Linked DNA regions of Homo sapiens: regions 1, 3 and 4 are each linked to region 2. Evidence: fine-mapped expression QTL. A gene starts in region 2. Each other region holds a variant in brackets. All regions are shown on one strand. Distances are between the middles of the regions. Region 1 has its middle 5.4 kb from the start of CASC23. Region 2 holds the start of TUB (TUB bipartite transcription factor). Region 3 overlaps TRIM66 (tripartite motif containing 66). Region 4 holds the start of TUB-AS1 (TUB antisense RNA 1).

The links. PIP is the estimated chance that this variant, and not a neighbour inherited with it, causes the effect. A credible set is the group of variants that fine-mapping cannot tell apart.
Region 1: its variant is the best candidate, but not a certain one, in a credible set for the expression of TUB in pancreas (GTEx, PIP 0.84).
Region 3: its variant is the best candidate, but not a certain one, in a credible set for the expression of TUB in ovary (GTEx, PIP 0.88).
Region 4: its variant is the best candidate, but not a certain one, in a credible set for the expression of TUB in breast (GTEx, PIP 0.89).

Annotation. Positions count from the first base shown.
Region 1 is chr11:8,019,309-8,024,455 of GRCh38, reverse strand. It overlaps a transcript of TUB not described here. Among named protein-coding and RNA genes, the nearest start is that of CASC23, 5.4 kb to the right of the region's middle. The variant C/T (reference allele first, on the strand shown) is at 2,591.
Region 2 is chr11:8,078,416-8,083,562 of GRCh38, reverse strand. TUB (TUB bipartite transcription factor) reads right to left here and starts at 2,352. Exons shown (of 12, transcript NM_177972.3): 1 at 2,015-2,352. The coding sequence starts at 2,052. RefSeq lists an enhancer at 1-401.
Region 3 is chr11:8,640,147-8,645,293 of GRCh38, reverse strand. TRIM66 (tripartite motif containing 66) reads left to right here. Exons shown (of 25, transcript NM_001388022.1): 13 at 2,168-2,285; 14 at 4,142-5,067. Among named protein-coding and RNA genes, the nearest start is that of TRIM66, 40 kb to the left of the region's middle. The variant C/T (reference allele first, on the strand shown) is at 1,931.
Region 4 is chr11:8,055,198-8,060,344 of GRCh38, reverse strand. It overlaps TUB-AS1 (TUB antisense RNA 1), which reads right to left and starts at 307. Exons shown (of 3, transcript NR_120538.1): 1 at 267-307. It also overlaps a transcript of TUB not described here. The variant T/C (reference allele first, on the strand shown) is at 3,042.

The DNA.
Region 1 (5,147 bases), 59 kb after region 2:
GAGGGGTCTTGAGAGTGCGGAAGGTTTGGAAGGGCTGTTGTGGGCAATGGGAGTGAAGTTCATCAGGGAGAAGCAGAAAGACTGAGAGATGGCATTGGTGGCCCGGCCGAAGATGAAGACCATGAAAGTGGTGACATCCTGCACAGGCAAGTCATTTTTGTTGTAGGATTCTAGTGTTATAAGAAGAAAGGGGATAGAGATTTTAACATTGATCCACGCCGGGCTAGAGTCGTGCTGAGCATACGTGAGGGAATAAAAAGTGCTGGAGTGAGTGACTGAAATAATCTACCATGTAATACAAGCTGGGAAGAGAAGAGAGGCCGGGAAAAGGCTGGTAGGCCATGAAGGCAGACACCTTCGTGTTATGGCAGGAGTAATGTATAAGGAACATGCCTGAGGTCAGAGAGCTGGCAATTCATGTGTATGAGATTAGAAGTGAAGCAATTCCAGCTGTCATCATCTAGGAATTTATCCTGTGAATAACTGAAGAGAAGGGTCTAGAATGGGAAGGTCCAGAAATTGGGAGTGAAGAGTGCTAGTTTGGTCACTGATATGGGCACTGAAGCCTTTGAGGATAACGACTGAAGCTTGAGTGGAGACAAAATGGTTAATGGGGTGCCAAGCTGTGGAAAAAAATGGACTTCATGATACCCACTTTGTGCCAGTCATTTTACATAGATCTTTTCCTTTTATCTTCATCACAATCAGTGGTATAGATAAGGAGATTTGGAGAGGTCAAGGTCAATGTCCAAGTTTTGAGGAGTCCGTTTGGCTTGTGGATGCTGACTAGAGAATACAGTTATCAGTGAAAGGTCTGATTTTAAACCTATTGCGTTAAAGCTGTTGGCTGAATGTCTAGATGGAGACGTCTACAGGCATTTAGAGATGTGGGACTAAGTCTTGGCAAAAAGGCTGGAGTTGAAGATATAGATTTCTGTGTTAGAAGCATTGCGTTGATAACTGAGACCAGGGTGTAGCCTGAGAATAGAATGGAATAGAGTGAACTGGAAAAGAGGAGCACTTTGGCATGTGCTCAGATGTGGACAGTGGGGACCTAAGAGGAGCCAGAAATTGTAAAAATGTAGGCATCATATTTTGGTAGGTTGGAAAAATGGCCATAGATTTTCAGCTCCTGCCTCCAAGAGGTAAGGCCTGTTTCCCCACCCCTGAAATGTGGGCTGGCATTTTGACTGACTTTGACTAATACAAGGCAGCAGAGTGATGTGCAAGTTCTAAACCTAGGCCTCAAGAGACCCTGCAGCTTCTGCTGTCTCACTGGAATCCCTTCCACCACCATGTGTGCCAACCTGAGTGAGACTGCTGCAAGATGAGAAGGCACGTGGAGAGAAGGCCCAGCTGCTCTAGCCTTCCCAGCCGGAGCACCAGATATGTGAGCAAGCCCAACCCAGAAAAGCTGAGCCTGGCCCAGACCACAAAACTGCCCAGCTAAGCCCAGCCCAAATTGCTGATCCACAGAATCTTGTGCTAACTCAAACAGTTGTTTTGTTGTTGTTGTTTTGTTTTTGTTTGTGTGTTTTTTGTTTTGTTTTGTTTTGTTTTTGAGACACAGTCTTGCTCTGTCGGCCAGGCTGGAGTGCAGTGGCACGATCTCCACTGCACTGACTGCAACCTCCGTCTCCCGGGTTCAAGCAATTCTCCTGCCTCAGCCTCCCGAGTAGCTAGGATTACAGGTATGTGCCACCACACCTGGCTAATTTTTGTATTTTTAGTAGAGACAGGGTTTCACCATGTTGGCCAGGCTGGTTTTGAACTCCTGACTTCAGGTAATCCGCCCGCCTTGGCCTCATAAAGTGCTGGGATTACAGGCCTGAGCCACCGCGCCTGGCCAAAACAGTTGTTATTTTAAGTCACTAAATTTAGGAGTCACTTGTTAACATGGCAATAGATAACTGACATGCACATGGCCCAGAAGCAAGGCGGACAACAGCTTACATAAACACACGGAGGAGAGGTCAACTTGGGTGAGGACTTGAAGGAAAGGTGTTTGCCAGGTTCAAAGATGTGATGGGGGCAGCAACCAGAGAACAGTGCTGGAAAGTGAAAGTTAACTATTAACAATGGTTCCTTATAGAGTTAGGATGGGGATGAGGTCAGCAGAACACAGATTTTCACTTTTAATGCTATGTACCCAATGTATGTGTTGCTTGTGTAATGGTTTTAACAGCTTGATTGAGTATTGTGTAATTTTTGAATAATTCAATATTTATGTCTTAAAAAACAAGTACTGATGAGAACATAGAGGAGGTGGTGTGGACTAGTGCTTTTGGAGAGTAGACAAACCAGCTGCAGCACAATCAACTGCGAAGTTTTAAACAAACATTGAGCCCAGGTCCTACCCCTGGATATTCTGATTCAGTTAGTTTGGTCAAGGGCCAGGTGAGTTGTTTTCTTCACATAGCTCCCCAGGTACTGAGATTGTCAGGGTGAGAAGAAAAGAGTTCTGAAGACAGAAACCCAGTAAATGTCTTTATGTAGGGGTCTGAAAGCAGAAAAATAATTTTCTTTTTTTTTTTTTTTTTGAGCTGGAGTCTCGCTCTGTTGCCCAGGCTAGAGTCCAGTGGCGTGATCT[C/T]GGCTCACTGCAAGCTCCACCTGCCGGGTTCACGCCATTCTCCTGCCTCAGCCTCCTGAGTAGCTGGGACTACAGGCGCCCGACACCACGCCCAGCTAATTTTTTTGTATTTTTATTAGAGACGGGGTTTCACCGTGTTAGCCAGGAGGATCTCGATCTCCTGACCTCGTGATCTGCTTGCCTCAGCCTCCCAAAGTGTTGGGATTACAGGCGTGAGCCACCACGCCTGGCCAAGATTTTCAAACCAAGCTTCTGTGGAAGACTAGAGTTCCAGAAACGTTTACAATATGCATTAATAAAACAGCAATTTATACCACTTGTTGCATGATTACTAAGTCCCAGGCAATATGATAGGCCCTTTATATTTATTACCTCATTTATTTATTTTTATTTTTTGAGACAGAGTCTAGCTCTGTCGTCCAGGCTGGAGTGCAGTGACACAATCTCGGCTCACTGCAAGCTCCGCCTCCCCGGCTCAAGCAATCCTCCAGCCTCAGCCTCCCAAGTAGCTGGGATTACAGGCGTGCACCTCCATGCCCAGCTAATGGTTTTTGTTTTTTGTATTTGTAGTACAGACGGGGTTTCACCATGTTGGCCAGGCTGGTCTCAAACTGATCTCAAGTGATCTGCCCACCTCAGCTTCCCAAAGTACTGGGATTACAGGTGTGAGCCACTGCGCCAGGCCTATTACCTCATTTAATACTCACAACACTTCCCCAAGAAACTGTGGCCCAGGGAGAAGTAATTTGTCCAAAGTTAGCTAGGTGGAGTCAGGATTTGAATGCAGGTTATCTAATTCCAAAGTCTTTCTGCTTTTATAGGTTTGCTTTTGCAGGGAAAAATTATTTACTATATGGAATTAGCTCAACTTTAAGTTTTTCTCCCAGAATATGTCACTGCTTATTTCTAATATAATCTAGACTGTGAGCTCATCTCCCGGAGGAAATTCTATCTTTTTATCGCCTTATTTCCAGGGCCCAGGATATAGTTCGCACTCAATACATGTTTGTTGAATAAATGAATGAATGTGTGAATTTGGGATCTGAACCAAAGTTTGTAGGTTTTGTTATTTTAAGTTTAATACTCCAATAATAGAGTTCTTCTCCGTGGAGAGCACCACTTTTCAAAAAGGCAGGTGCACTGGAATCATGAGGTGGACAGGAGATTTGCTGGGGCTGTGCAAGGAAGGGCTGATGAAGAAACAGAATTAACCAATTCAGACGATATATTTCCCCAAAGAAGGCAATGAAAGGAAAAAAACAGACGTGGATCAGTTGCGCCCATCTCGAGGAGGTAAACAAGACACAGGTGAATAAGTTTACAGGCTGAAGAGAGATCACTAGTAAAGAGGCGAAGGTGCAGATGGAGGAGACAGATGGGATTAATACGGGGCGAGACTCAGGGAAGGTGAGGAGGGGTCCTAGGCAAACTAGCCTTAGGCAGGAGGGACACCTGTTCCTCTGAATCTAGGCAAACAAGGGCTGTCGAAGATGCAGGGAGGTTTTTGGCAGAGTTAAGGGAAGGAGAGCACAGGAAGCAGGACTTCACGGAGATGAGAGCAGCCCAGTAAATGAAGTTTGTCTTCCAGCCCTCACCATCTAGGGTCATGGGTCAGGAAATTTAACTCCAGAATTCTGCAGATGGACTTGGGGTTACGAAACTTAAAAACAACAAACAAACAAACTACTATCTACTATCATCATGGTTTCATTTTAAATACAAGGGTGGCATTTAACACACCAACAAAAGGTAGAACAGGCATAACCTAGGAATAAATGTACTCGGCTTTATGACCAACTCACTCCGTTCTTATTTTTTTCATTTCGCCTGGGAGGATGACTCCTTCCTCCAGGACGAGTGCGTGGGGAGCGCAGCTCCAAACCGCCCACGCCGGCAGCCGCTCGCCATCCCCGCGGGGCGGGCGCGGAGCCTGGCAACTCGAGAGCGCCGCTCCTGCGCCCAGACAGCCGGCCCAGGCTGCCATCTCGCCCCGCGGAACAGGCAGCGACTCGCGGGTCCCCGGCAGCCAGCGGGACACTCCGCCCGGGGCCAGCCTCGGTCCCTGCGGAGGGCCGGCGGGGCGCAGACGCCGGCGGGCGCATCCCAGAGCCGAAGGCGCCCCCTCCTCGCCCCGCCCGCCAGGGGCCCACCCCGGCCCCTGCCCCGCCCCTCCCGGCGCCCCCTCCGCGCCCTTTCTCGGGGTCCCCCGGCGGAGCGACCCTGGCGGGGCAGCTGGGGTGGGGGCAGAGGTGCCAGCTCGCTAGTCCCAGTGGCCGCGTGCCCTCCTCCGACAGCTCTGCCCCGTGGGTGTGGGGACACTACCCTCGCTGGAGCTCCGCTGCGCCGTACCCGAGGCTCTGGGTCCCGGATGCCCGAGGGTCCGGGTGCCCAAGCCCACCCTGGGGGTCGGGCGCTCGCGCCAGTCCTAGCCCCCGGAGGCCCGCTTCTCCCGCAGGAGATCGAGGGTCAGCAGGCGCTCACGCAGGGCCACCCTTCGGGCGCCCTACCTGTCATAGCTCCAGCGGCTGTAAGACAGGGTCCGGTGGCTGCTGACTCC
Region 2 (5,147 bases):
CTCCTTGCAGGATGCCAGGGCCCTAGGCACTTGCTAGAACAGGATCATTTCCTAGAGACAGTTCTACCTTCCTGGGCCACCTTTCCCAGGAACAGGCTTAAGCCATTCCGTTTGAGGCATATTTTCTCTAAGACCCCTGCACACTCTCTACAAGTGGCTTTAGTCCCTGGCTCCCTGGGAGAAGCTTTCTAGAACCATGTCTTGGCCTGGCCCAACCTCCAGTTTGCCAGATCCTAACCACGTCATAATCTCCACAGCCGTAAGTGCTGCCCCTCCCACCCTCCTCGGTCCATGGCCACCACCCTGCCATCTGGACCCCCGCACACAGGTACTTCCACAGCACCGGAGTCCACTCAGCCCACAAGCACCGCCCAGGCACCTCTGCCGCGTGGCTAGAAAAGGTTGATGACGCTCCATGGGGCTGCACTGTCTTCTAGAAGGTCCTCAGCCCACATGTGCCAAGAAAGGCCAGGATCCTCCAGAAACTACCTGTGCCCCAGCCTGGACGTCTGTCTGGCGCAGCAGCTCTTCTCAGTCAGCACAGCCCCAGTCCCTGGTTCCATGATGGAAACAGCTCCCTAATCCATGTGAGACTGAAGTGTGACTACATGTGTCTGCAGGAGAGCCTGTGGGTGACCTGTATGTGCGCACGTGTGAGGGTGTTGCTGGTGGTTGTGGGGAGAGACACAAAATAACCTGGAAACCCCTGAATCCCCCACAGGAGCTGAGATTAGAGGTAACAATTCTCAAGAGAAACCCTGAGTTCCCAGGCCACGTGCCTGTTTTCAGAAGGATCTGCTTTTAAGAAGCCTTGGGCGGTTTCAGCTGGTTTCCATTTGGGACGCTGTCTGGACAGACTCAGAGAAGAGCCCTGTCAGAACTATTTTCTATCAGTGACTGGTATGAGGCTCTAACAGAGAGCAAGCTGTGTTACAAGGCGGGACCTGAGGATCTCATCCTGCCGTCCGCTAGCACGTGCACCTGGGTCGACAATAACACAGTGGGCCTTAGGAGTCCAGCACCCATTTTCCACAGAGACAGCCCCGTAGCCCATGGCAACCAAGGAGCCAATGGGTGGCCAAGAATCTGGCGCTGCCATGGCGATGAGCTCCCTTCCCTGGTAATAGAATGGAGTAGAGTGGATAGGGAAAGACCTGCACCTGTGAGGGGCCCCCCAGAGACCACCTCCCCGCCCCCTTCCCAGGCAAATGGGAAAGCCCAGCCATCCTTGAGATAGACCACAGTGCCTGGCAGCAGAGGGTGGGGGGCTTCCCTGAGTGTGCCTGGATTCTTGAGTGCCTTTCTGCATGTGAGGGCAGTTCTATGTACTGTGAGCTGGTGTGTGTCTAGGTATAGACCTGCTAGCAAGTAGATTATTCAGTGTCTGAAAGAGACTGAGTAGCACTTGTGAGTGAGAAGCAGGTGTCAGTTATTCTCCAGATACAGGAGGTGGACGTGCACAGATATGCAGGCATGTGTCTTTGTGAGCCCAAGAATTCTTGTGTGTAGAATATACGGGTGCATGTCCACATGACCACTGGTGTGCTCTTGGTTCAGAATAACTGTCTTCACGGATCCATGCTTTGAGAGTGTGAACCGACCAGCAGGAGCGTCTTTGGCCCAAGGCAGGGACGTCCTGTGGGTGCATGCGTGCAGATGTATGAGCGTGTGCGCGCACCCTGCACAGGCGTGTGACTGGGGTTCTGGGCCTAGGAGGGGGCTCAGAGCAGTGTGGACTCCTTCCCCAGGCGGCCACATGGTGCTGCCTGACCCAACAAGGCCCACACAGGCCCCTTCCAGCAACCCTGGCAGATAAGGGGGTGGAGCGGGGCAGGCGGGAGCAGTCCGCAGGGGCCCTCAAAGTTGAGGGAGGAAGGACCAGCGACTCCAACCCGCGCCCCAGTGCTGGGATAGGTGGGGAGGGCAGCGGTGCCCTGCGCCCCGGCCGCGTATCCCCAGCCAGCTCACGTCCCGAGTCGGGAGTGGTGGGCGCCCCGGCCCGGCGCCCGCGTACCTGTAGGGAATCCAGTCGGAATGCGGCTTGGAAGTCATGTCTCTCGGGGGCGGGGCGGTGGCTGCGGCTCTGGAGGCCGGGGCCCGGAGGGGCCGGCGCGGGGGCCCTGCTCAGCTCCCGGGCCGCCCCGGGCCGCATCCTCCCGGGCCGGGGCGCTGGGCCCCGCCGAGGCCCGCGCTGCACGCCAGGGCCCCGGCTGCTGGCTCTGCGAGCGGCTGCCTGCGCGGCGCGGCGAGGCGAGATGGGCGAAGCTCCGGGAGTGCGCGGGTCGTGCGCGCGCGTGGAGGCGGGGAGGCCGACCGCACCGTCCCGCGCCCCTCTGGCGCCAAGGCGGGAGTACTGCGTGGCAGCGGCGGCCTGCCCCTTCTCCCTCGCCCCGCCCCGCCCCGCCCCGCAGAGACCCCACCCCCCGGCCGGCTCAGGGCCTGCGGAGCGCCCTTGCCCCCTCCCCCGAAATCGTCGCGATCCACGCTCCATGCGCGTGACCGCGCCGGCTCCCACCTTCGGCTAACGGCGGCGCTGCAGCCGGGCCAGTCCCCAGGCCTCCCAGCCTCAGTTTCGTCTTCTGTGAAACGGGGATCATTCGAACACCTCCCTGTGTACCTGCCCTACCTATCTGCGCTATGGGATGGGAAACCGATGCGCGGATTTGGCGGGGCAGGGACCGGGCCGGAGGCGCGGATGGAGAAGGAATCCAGTCGTGCAGGAAGAGGCGGGGGAACCTCCGGGCCGAAGCGTGGAGGTTGGCCTTCCCTCACCCCCACCTCCGAGTTCCCACACCCCCGCCTGGGGAACCCTCTGTCTTTGGGTTAAGGAGGTGTTTCCTCAGCAGTGGCTCCCTCCCATCTAAGCTATAGCGTCAAGGGAAGGGGAACATTTACGGTCTATTGCATTCCCAGCCCTTGCAAATTTCTAGTATGTAATCTCCACAGTAGCCTTGAGAGACAAACATCATATCCCTATAACCCAGAGAATAGGAATGCTGAGATGCCCAAGGCCGTAAAGCTAGGAAGTGGTGGAGCTGAAACTGTTCTGTGATCTGTGTCCTCCAAAGCCCTTCCTAAGGGGCGCAGTTGACCGGAGGCAAAAACCCCTACAAAGATCATCTGAAAGTCTCTGCGCGCTGAGGAGGTCCTGGCTGTGACTAGGACCAGCTTGAATGCAAGGCATGGCACACTGAGAAGGTGCGGGACCCACAGCAGGGCGGGCGGAAGCAAGGAGCAGCAGGCTGAGGGGTCACCAAGGCCTGCGTGTGGAGCAGGTGATCCGGGAGAGGTCTGCGGAGGGGCACGGTCCCCACACGCCCCGTGGGCGTCCTCGTGTGCATCCTGGATTCTGCCGCGCCAACCGCGCCAGAAGAGTGTTGTGCGGGGATCTTCTGATGATAAATAGGCGGTCAGGACTGCCCCGCAGAGAGTGTGAGAACAGCCAAGGGGGCTGAGGGAGGGGGCTCATCCTGCTGCCCTGGGGCTACAGCCAGACCCCCACCCCAGGGCTCTCCCAGCCCTTCAGCCTTGCCTTCTCTTGCCCATTAATTATAAAACACAATAACCCACAATATTTGGATTATTTGCTGGGCGTCAGGAGCTGTGTTAGGTGCTACGTACATATTATAATTCGTTTAATCCTCATAGCCACCCTAGAAGGTAGGCACCATTAGCATACCCATTTCACAGCAGAGGAACTGAGTCACAGAGAAGGCAAGGATCTTGCCCAAAGTCACACAGCTGGTCAATGATGAAGCTAGCATTCACACACAAAAGGTCTGGGTCTACAGCACTTACCCTCAGCCTCCTTTTGGCCAATCACAGTTCATGTAGTGCACACACACACACCCCTACACACATGCACACACACACGCACACCTACACACACCTACACACATGCATGCACACACACATGGCCTCTCTCTCCAGGCTTCTGGAGCTCAGGACAGGTCAGATCCATCTCTGTCGGGCACAACATTGATGCTCTCTGAACACTATGACCTCTGATTATTTATCAACCTCCAAGAGCTGTCACTGTCACTGGGGACAGAGAGCAGACAAAATAAAACACCTGGGAGTGGGGTGCAGAAGGCAGAAAGCAGGGCTGTTTTGTTGCCTGCTGGGATGCTTGGCCTGGACTCTGCTGGCCTTCCAGGAAGGGCAGCAGAGATTGGTCCCTACCCTGGAGACCGCAGCAGAGCAGCAAAGCATTGCCCCAGAGGCCTCTGTCCTTCAGGGCAGAACCTTGCCTAGAGATCAGAAGCTTTGACCCCTGGAGGCCGCGCCCTCCAGGCCACCCCTTCCTGAGTTGCAATTAGTAGCTACCATGTCAGAGACAGCTAGAGTCTAAAAGACTTTCCCTTCAAGAATTTGAAGCTGTTTTCCTCCCTTTATTCCCAAATTACCTGACACCTTAAAGCAATCAGAATTTAGTTGGAAGGTCTCAGGAGCCTGGAGTAATTGAATCTATTAAATAGACAGTTTAGGCTCTGTCCTAAGGGAGCAAAATCTGGAGGCAGAGTGAGGTGCAGAAGTAAGATGGCTTTCCAAGTCTCTTTCTGCAGAAGTTACATAGGTACATGGGATGTGGGGGAACCATGGGACTGAGCGCCAGTGTATGCATGAGTGTGAGTGTGTGTACATGTGGGGGAGCCAGTGGGACTGAGCGCCAGTGTACGCATGAATATGAGTGTGTATGTGTGTACATGTGTGTATGCACATGGGTTGTGTGAGTCCCATACACTGGCACACAAGGGACTGTGTGCCAGTGTATGCCTTGAGTGTGTGTGTGCATGGGAAGTTGGGGGCAGCAGGACTGTTTCAGTGTACGCAGCAATGTGTGTATGTGTGTGAGAGATGGCCCTGCAGTCTGAACAGGACTGCACAAGAACATTTGTTGGATGGTACGCGTGCAGGAGAATGACGTGTGTGCTTCTTCGAGTTCTATGGAGTGCATGAGTGTTAACATTCTACTCAGAATGCATGATGGCTTTTTCCACTCAAATGACTTCCGTGGTTGACATTTTAAGTTTACGTCCTTGGCTTCCATCAAAAAGCTACTCCAGAAAGTCATATGATGTATATTATACTAGGCCATGATCAAAAGTTATATTTTTACAACTGCACTATAACCATGACCCTCGAAG
Region 3 (5,147 bases), 560 kb before region 2:
TTGAGAGAAGTCGATGGAGTTTATATTTGAATACTTTGAATCTAAGGTGCCTGTAGTGCATCCAAAACCAACTCCAAGCTACCTACCATTAAAAAGCCGTTTTAATATATGGGTGTGGAAGTCAGAAGAAAAGTTGGTTTTGGAGAAGGAGATGTAGGAGTCACCAGGAAATCAGTGGTATCACCTTGGAAGAGTGTGTGGAGCAAGAAGAGAGAAAGTCAGGAACCCAGGGAATACCGTCATTTTCAGCATAGACAGAGGAAGATGATGACTGGAGGAGAGTGAGAAGCAGTGGTCAGAGGTGAGAAGCAATGGTCAGAGGTTAGAAGCAAAACAGAGTGTGGTACACAGAAATGAACAGTTTCCAATTTTAAGTGGTCCATTTGACAATGCTGCATGGGTGAAAGAAGATGAATAGTGACGAGCAGCCTCTGGATCTGGGAATCAGGCTATCTTCTGAAAGAAGCTCCAGTGAAGTAGAAGGGTCAAAAGCTAGAATGAGGAGACTGAGGATGGGTGGTGACGAAGTAGAGACAGAAGTGAAAAGAAGAAAAATAAAAACATAGCCTGAGAAGATGGCAGAGTTGGGGGAAACTTTTTTTTAAGCTTGGAAAACATTTGCACACATGTATATGGGAGAAGAGGTTGAAGATAGAGAGGAGGGGTGTGTGGTGGGGTAAGTACACTGAGAAAGCAGGAGGAAGGATATAGAGTGAACTGGTTGACCTTAAACACAAGGACAGTCCCTTCGTCTGAGATGGGAGGACAGGAAGGGGACAATGCTGTAGTTAAGTTTGAGGGTAGAAGGGATACAAGTTGGGGTAATTTATCCTTTATGGTGTCTTTTTTTTCTCTGTGAAATAGGAGGTGATAATAAGAGGGTTAAAACATTGGTAAGTAGCACCAAAGTAAAGATTTTAAATGGTCATTGAGTGCAGTGGAAGAGAAAGATGACAAGAAAAGAAGTGACAAGAGAAAGGGCTGAGGGGTGCTGCTGAAATTCATAATCACTGAAGTGGCCCCAGATAACATGGCTTTGGTATGGCTGGATTACCTAAGAGTAGGAGTTGGCGATGGGGAGGGAATTAGGACACTAGTGATATCATGACTGTAAATGAAAGGAAGCTGGGAAGTCCTGTGGACTGAAGGAGCAGGGCTTGGAGAGGTTGAACAACATACTCTGAAAGAGCATGAACTTGTTATGACCAGGGTGGGTTGTTGGAGTTTAAAGGTCTCATAGGTAGAATGGTTGTAAATGATGAATAGGGTCTAGGTATGGTGACTAAACTGAAAACAAGGTGGTTGCCATGCAAGAGATCAATGAAATGAGAGGCTAAGATGTTCGTTGGGACATTAGTTAACTAGAGGATAGCAGGGTAAGTTGGACACTTGCCAAAGCCCTGGATAAATAGGAGAGTTAGTGATGAGAAATAGATGAAAGTGTTGGGAGAGGAAGAGGGCTATTGAGTAGGACAGAAGGGTGTTTTACCTGCAAGTGGAAGTACAGCAATGGGGAGCTCAGACAATGCCTGCCCCCACTAGGCTTTTAAATTGAGGTGATGGTAGAATGAATGGAGCTGCCAGTCAACGATGTAGTGAGGGAGAATGACAAATCACTTAAGGCCTGAAAAGATAAGAATGTAGGGGTTCCAGGCCAGGTGCGGTGGCTCACGCCTGTAATTCCAGCACTTTGGGAGGCCGAGGTGGGCAGATCACGAGGTCAGGAGATCGAGACCATCCTGGCTAACACAGTGAAACCCCGTCTCTACTAAACAAAATACAAAAAATTAGCTGGGCGTGGTGGCGGGCACCTGTAGTCCTAGCTACTCAGGAGGCTGAGGCAGGAGAATGGCGTGAACCTGGGAGGCAAAGCTTGCAGTGAGCTAAGATCGCGCCACTGCACTCCAGCCTGGGCAACAGAGTGAGACCC[C/T]GTCTCAATTAAAAAAAAAAAAAAAAGAATGTAGGTTCCAGGAGCCTTGATAAGAGGAAAGGGATCAGCTGGGAGGATGGACAGGTGCTAAGGTGCAAGAGAATGAGAATATGGAGGATGACCAGAGGTTAAAGGGCCATGACTTTGAGCCTTTCAGCTTGTCCAAAGAGTAAGGGAAGGGGAGTTGTCATTTAGGTGCAAGATGCCCAAATAAATGACCTTTGGTGCTGTTGTCAGATTGTGTTTCAGATGCAGCGATTGCTGGAGACAAGTTGTAACACAGATCCTGGCTCCCCTTGGAGTATCAGATTCACCTGGGAGCCTAACTTCTGGACCAAGCAGCTAGCTTCTCTTGGTGAGCTTGGACCCACCCACCCAGGCCTACCCACCCTGTGGGCTTTGACTTAATTGCTTACCTTACTGGGTAGGTCAGCATATGCCCAAGAGAAAGCACTCTCTGGGACTGCCAGTGGTCATGGAATCATTCAGCAAACCTTTTTTTTTTTTTTTTTTTTTTTTTGAGGGGGAAGAGGAGAGGATGAGGAATTAAATAACAGTGGCAATATAGGACTTTGTATCAGGATGAGTTGAAATCTGAGTTTACCATTCTGTGTAAATGTCCTGTTACATTGGTTTTATTGCTGAGGAGGAGACAAGACAGTCACCCTGCTCTCCGGAATGCTGTATGGCAGTACAGATGAATGTGTGTCTCTGTGGTCACACAAAGGTATACACGTGTGGGCACAAGCAGGGGTATCTCAGCAACAGTGAGACTGCGTGTGCATGTTTGTGTCACACAGACATATCCTTTCGAGTTGAGATGTAAGCAGATAATTCATGGCCTTGTGCATTTTTCTTCCCTGCTGCAATCATTTGCTGGCATTCAGTCTTTAGGCAGAATGTAGACAGCTTGAAGTTGTGCCTGTGTTGACAGCCTAACGAGTGTTAAACTGATGGCCAGCTGCTGCCTTCATTTGAGGCTGTTAATCTTATTGAAAATTTGTTGAACTTGGCAAAGTGACAAATGATATGTAGGTTTATTTCTTTTCTTCCCTCTTTCCTTTGATTTAACTCAGCAGACCTTTGATGGCCACCTACTCTTGTTTAGGCCCCATGCTGAGCACCAAAGAACCAATGGTGAATAAAACACATTTTCCTTAAGGAGCTCAGACTTCTTCTAAGTAAGTCTCACCAAAATAATGAGAGGAAGGAGTCATTAGACTGAGTTAGCCATAGATCTACTTGTGCACAAGGGACCTAGAGGCCTCAGGGGGCAGTGCCGGTGCCTGGCACTGACCTGGTGTATTAGTCCATTCTCGCATTATTGTGAAGAAATACCTGAGACTGGGTAATTTATAAAGAAAAGAGGTTTAATTGGCTCATGATTCTGCAGGATGTACAGGAAGCATGATCCTGGAACCTGCTCGGCTTCTGGGGAGGCCTCAGGAAACTTACAATCATGACAGAAGGTGAAGACGCACATCACATGGACAGAGCAGCAAGAAACAGAGCAAGGGGGAGGTGTTACACACTTTAAAGAAATCAGGTCTCACGAGACCTCTATCACAAGAACAGCACCAAAGGGACGGTGCTAAACCACTCATGAGGGATCCGCCCCCACGATCCAGTCACCTCCCACCAGGCCCCACCTCCAACACTGGGGATTACAATTCAACATGAGATTTGGGCGGGGACACAGCTCCAAACTGTATCACCTGGTATTAGAGCTTCCCCACTCTCTTCCGTCCTACTTGCTCAACACACAGTTCCCCACACCTGTATCTGGGAACTTGTTCATTGGTCCCAGGCATGGCTCTCTACCCTTTGCTACTTTCTAGCATACTCCCTCCCAACCCCAAAGTTGATTCTTTTTGTGAGAGTCTGATTGGGCTGTTCTGTTGGAAAAAAATGAGTGGGTGCTATTTGAGAGAGCTTGTGGTTTCCCTAGTGGGACAGAAACAGAGTCAGGGCTGAGCATCTGGTAAAAGCTGAACTAATTTCTCAAATATCCTAGGCCCCCAAAGCAGGTGCATACAGGTGCTATTACTGGCAGCATTCTAGACCGAGTCTAGGAGATCAAGGGTTGAGTTTCTTAATCTCTGTTCCTGGTACAGGATTGTTGAATGAGGTTCTTTTGTCCCAGGAGCAGGAAGTAGCAAGGTGGGAGCAACTTGAAAAACTTTTGAAAAACTCTCTATTCTGCATTTTCAGGCTGCATAACTACTGAAGGTGGACAAATGTCCAGGGCAGATGCTCCTGCTTATGGAGGCTTACAGGGGTCATCACCCTTTTATCAAAGCCACCAGTCTCCAGTGGCTCAGCAAGAGGCTCTTAGCCACCCCTCACACAAGTTCCAGTCTCCAGCAGTGTGCTCCTCATCTGTGTGCTGCTCCCACTGCTCCCCAGTCTCGCCTTCCCTCAAAGGCCAGGTCCCCCCACCCAGCATACACCCAGCCCACAGCTTCAGGCAGCCCCCTGAGATGGTGCCCCAGCAGCTGGGGTCTCTGCAGTGCTCTGCCCTGCTGCCCAGGGAGAAAGAGCTGGCCTGCAGCCCTCATCCACCAAAGCTGCTGCAGCCCTGGCTGGAAACCCAGCCCCCCGTGGAGCAGGAGAGCACATCCCAGCGGCTGGGGCAGCAGCTGACTTCCCAGCCCGTGTGCATTGTCCCCCCACAGGATGTTCAGCAAGGAGCCCATGCCCAGCCCACCTTACAGACACCCTCTATCCAAGTCCAGTTTGGCCACCACCAGAAGCTGAAGCTCAGTCACTTTCAGCAGCAGCCACAGCAGCAGCTACCACCTCCACCACCACCCCTCCCCCATCCCCCACCTCCCCTTCCCCCTCCCCCACAGCAGCCACACCCACCTCTTCCTCCATCCCAGCATCTGGCTTCTAGTCAGCACGAGAGCCCTCCTGGCCCTGCCTGTTCTCAGAACATGGACATAATGCATCACAAGTTTGAGCTGGAGGAAATGCAGAAGGACTTGGAGCTTCTTCTCCAGGCTCAACAGCCCAGCCTGCAACTGAGTCAGACCAAATCTCCTCAGCATCTTCAGCAAACCATTGTGGGGCAGATCAACTACATCGTGAGGCAGCCAGCACCTGTCCAGTCCCAGAGCCAGGAGGAGACCCTGCAGGTAAGCGTCAGGGTGGCTTGGCGTGCATATTCTGCCCATCGTAGGATCACTCAGGGAACACAGCCTCCCCAAAAACAAGG
Region 4 (5,147 bases), 23 kb after region 2:
CCACTCTCTGGTTTTCCTGTACGGAGGGACCTGGCATCTGGCACCCCTTCCAGAAACAAGGTCCAGGCAGGCCTGAGTTCTTGGCCCTTCAGCACTAGTTCTGGACCCTTGTGACTGTGTTCTCCGCAGGTGACCTCTTCACTCTCTTGGCTTTCCCACCTATCCATGGGGCTCCCAAATCTACTTCCTGATGGCTCCCCTGAGCCCCAAATGCCTCTGGGCCCCTCCAGGGATACCTCTAAGTCTCCAGGTTCAAAGCAACTCACCTTACTCCAGACCTGCTCTTCCTCCTGTTTTCTGGCAATGTGCATAGTCCTGCCATTCGCTCAGTCATCACCCCAGAAACCCAGGCCCCACCCTAACCCTCCTCATCTCGCCTGTGGCTCCACCCATGAAGCCCTCCTATCGGTCCCCTCCCCTGTCCCCAGTGCCTCTGCCCGGATCGAGGCCTCACATGTCCCCAGCCTCCTTCTGGTCTCCTTGACTGCAGTTCTGCCTGCTCCAGGAACATTACACTTTTAAAAGCCAACCCGAGCATGTCACTTGTCTGCTGACAAGGCTCTTTCCACTGCTCCTCGTTCCAAAGGATACAAACCAAGCTCTTCCATGAGGCTTACGAGGCTGCAGGACCTGCCCCCTGACCCCTCTCCTGCCTTGCTCTGCTGTCTCCCCTCCAGGCTGGCTTAGCTCCAGCCACTCCTAAACTCCCGGCAGATCTCCCCGCAGAACTTCTTTCTCATCTCCTGCCTCAGCACACACCCTCTCGTCTCCTCAGATCAAGGCTTTTCCCAGTGTGCCCTTGGGTACCTGCTTCACCATCCCCTAGCATACTCCCGGGCACCACCCTGCCCAGACCTGCCAAAAGAGAATCTCCGCATTTTTAACACAAATCTGTGGATGCTGCACACTAAATGTCGAGAGGCACTGTTCCGCTGAGCAGCTCCTCTTGTCCCAGCCTCGCTCCTGCCTCAGCTGGGCAATTTCTTCTTTTTTTGCCCCTGTACTCTCCAGGGTGTAACTAACTGCGACTGGATGTCTCCTCTGCTGGGCTGTGAGCTCCATACAGGCAGTGACCACGTCTTCTTCCTCTGACCTGTAAATCCCTGAGCCTGCTACAGAGAAGGGACCAATGAACGGGACCCCCACCTGAGCCCCAGTGCCCCCGGCCAGGAGGAGGTCAGGCTGATCTAGTGACAAGCCACAGCTTGTCTGGAAACCTAAGACACTGCTCCCAGGGTCTCTGCAAGTTACATCTGTCCCTCCACCCCACCCTACCTCACCGTCTGCACAGTAAGGAGACATGTTGGGACTATGTGTAATGGAGGGCCTACGGGGTGTTAACAGTGACATTTAACAACAAGCTCTCCAGAAAATGTCTGCATGCGTAGACTCAATAAGTTTATTATAAATTTTACTGACACAAAGGATGTATAGCACATAATTTACAAATACTAATGAAATATCCAATATTCTTTATTGTAAATTCCATATAGCCAGATGACTGTCCCAGAAATCAACCCATTCAATGAGTTTCGCCTAACTCTTTATCTGTAGCCAACCTACGGTTGCAATGACAAATTACTGTAGTTCCAGCTTAATGCTGCTTGATATTTTCATTTATGTTAACAAGTAAGTTGAAAGTGAAACAACAAAGACATGTCAGAACTTCACTCCTTCACTGGTGGTCGGAGTGACTTCTTTGCTGAATAGGTTAATAGTTTCTGAATACTGGAAAAATCTTTGTTTTCTGCTATTCACCATGGAGCAACTATAAACATGACACCCTTTAAAATGTAATCTGCATTAGTAGTATTTTTTCCCATCACTTTCTCAGGTCTAGACAATCAACAAAACAATAAACCAGGTCTTAATGTGCAGCACCTGTTGACTCCCCTGGTCTAGCCACCCTCGCCATGGCCAATCTGTGATGTGACTGAGCATCGAAGTGCGAGGAGATGCTCAGCAGTGCACGGTCACGTGGCAGTTCCACCCCGCAGACACAACAGACAAGCGCAGGGAAAGGCAGTAAAATGAATACGAAGTGGTGAGTTTTCAGTATATTACCTTTGTAAACATAACTTGTTTAATGTTAAATTTATACCGCTTCTTTTTTTTTTTTTTTTTAATTTTTGAGAGAGAGGATCTTGCTCTGTAGCCCAGGCTGGAGTGCAGTGGTGTGATCTCGGCTCACTGTGGCCTTGACCTCCTAGGCTCAAGTGATCCTCCCACCTCAGCCTCCTGAGTAGCTGGGACTACAGGCATGTACCACCATGCCTGGCTAATTTTTGTATTTTTTTGTAGAGATGGGGGTCTCACCATGTTGCCCAGGCTGGTCTCGAACTCCTGGCCTCAAGCAATCCTCCTGCCTCGGCCTCCCAAAGTGCTGGTGCGGCAGGCCAGGCATCACTAACACAGGCCTCCATAACAACTGTTTCAGTACTGACTGAGTGGTTAAGTCAAATATTAAAAGCTGACAGAACCAGTGCCCTTATACAAAGGCTGGGATGTAACAAAAGCCCACCAAGAGTTTTGCCTAGGCCTTTCCTGGGCCTTAAAGCATGACAAAATAATGAAGGAATTCTTAACAGGCCTCGTTTAAGGTTAAACAAGTTTTATTGGGGGTCTGAAGAAACTCCCCAGGCCTCCACAAATAAGTTTTATTGGAGGGCTGAAGGAACTCCCCAAACCTCCGTGACTTCGCAGGGGACAAGATAAGGAGGGTAATTACCCCTGGCACCTGGACCCATCTAGATTAAGTAAATTTACTGAGGCCCCAGAGGAAGGTCTTCAGGACTCGAATCTTAGTTATAGATTAAAAGAAGTTAATCACTTATGTCTTTAGACGAATGCACACTTACACATAGACATATAGTTTAGAAGATATATAAGCTCTGGAAAACTTTGTAATTTTGAGTTGGTCTGGCAATAATTTCCAGGCCTTCTCCCTGTGACCGGTTACAGAAATAAAAACTCCCCTCTCTCCCAGTTCATCTGCATCTCGTTACTGGGCCTTGAGAATAAGCAGCTGACCCTCGGTTTGG[T/C]CCAGGAACACTGGGATTACAGGCGCGAGTAACTGTGCCCGGCCAGTTTGATGCTTAATAACAGCTATGTTGAGCAAAGGGCTTACAAACATTTTCCTTTATTGCGCAATCGATTCTCATGAGCTGTCTGTGGGCCAGTTCCAGGAGAGTCACCCTAAAGAACTGAATGGGACCCTCCATTACTGCCATTACCCAGAGGGCCAGTCCCCTCCCCAGCCCTCCAGAGCCTAGCTTGTGAGCTGCCAGAGCTGGGATCCTGAGAGTCTAACAGACCCTGCTGTGTGATCCAGCCAGCTTGTTTCCACTCTGTGGGCCTCAGTTTCCTCAACTTTGAGGGGGAAAATGGTGCCTCCTAACTCGTGACGTGTGGAGAGAATGAAACGCCCACTTGCCCTTCCCCCACACACTTGGCCTACATACTGTAGTTCGTTCCCATCACTGCCCCCACACCTTACTTGAGACACACCATGTGCTTGTTTTGGGGACATGCCTGCACACCCCTCACCCTCCCAAACCACATCACACACAACAACATGTCACCCCATATACCACTCAGAGACAAGCTCACCTGTAGACAGCTGCCTCCCACACATCACCTCAGACACTCCACAGATAGATTTTCCTCCAGCTCTACCTCACACACAGCCTACCTGCATACCCAAACCACACCCCACAAAGGCTCCCATGCGCATATGTACCCAAAATTCCTTCGTGTGCTTTGTACCCACATGTACTGTGCCAAATACCTTTTCCCTCCCCCCAGGCATTTCACAGAAATGGATGCCTCACCCTGCCCACCACAACCCACTGACACTCCAGACGTCCCCCTGCCTTCCCCTGTCAGCACAAGCATGCGCACCACACACATGTGCCCATCATTTATTTATACTTCTCTCCAAACTCACACCTCACAGCACACACTCATGCCACCCCCACGCACAGGCATTCCCATATGGCCCTCACACACTCAAGGCATTCCCATATGGCCGCACATTCCAGGACAGGAGACCCCAGCCAGCCCTCTGAGCCCATGCCCTGGATTAAGGAGAGTGAGGGGCATCCTGGTAGCACGAGGTGGGAAAGCTAGGGTGCACTTCCTCGTGGTGACAGCTTGCTTCCCTGGAGGTCAGGCCCTGGCTTGAGGTGCAGGGAGGACTTCAGAGAGCTGAGAAGGGATAGGACAGAACTGTTGGCTAAACACCTCTGTGTCCTCCAGATCCAGCCTCAGGCGGCTCCAGCAGCCAGCTCCTTCCTGCTCTCCCCAGCACCCCCAACCCAAACAAGGACACCCATCTGCTTCTGGAAGCTCCTCCCATGCCCTGTGAGAGCGGGACTCTTGGGGGCTTAAGGGCCTTGCCCAGGCTGCAGTGAACGCTGAGCCCAGGCTCCCCTGTCACAGGGAGGGATCAGAAGTCACAGGGCCCTGAGCGAAGGGGCTAGTGGGAAGGTGAGCAGGGAGGCCAGGGCTCCTGCTTCCAACTCCACAGGTGCTGTCAGGACTCCAAGGGGGTGCTCCTTTCCTATGCCTTGCCAGACTGAGGCGGTGGCAGAGGCACACACTGTCATTGGCTGTCCCAGCCCTCAGCTCCACCTGAAGGTTGGACTCTATCCTGTCCCCCAGTCATCATCCTGTACTCTTGCCCTGTCCTTGCCCCCACCCCCAGCCCATCAGCAGCAGAGCTGAGTCCTGGGGTGAGGGGCCTCTGTCTGTCTGCTCCCATCACCCAGCATCTGTGCGGCCAGGGTAAGGGCCTGCCTCCTGGACCACCCCATCATCTGAGCAAGGAGGAGCCAGTGTGCAGCAGATGCTGGGTGGGCTCTGGGGCCCATGATGGGCAGATGCCAGCACATCTGTCTAGGTGGTCCCAGGACACTCTAAGAGCAGCCTCAGGCCAGACCGGGTCCTGATGGGCACAGGGAAGCCATCTCAGGGGTACACCCCTTCTTACAGCGCCACCCAGCGATAATCCAGAGTAATGGCTGAGGCCTTAGAGAGCAATGGTGAGGTATGCGCCACCCACTTCAGAAAGCTCACTCACTATCTTGCATTCTCCTCCCACCTCTCTCTCTCTCACACACGCACACACACAGGCCACTCCAGACTGA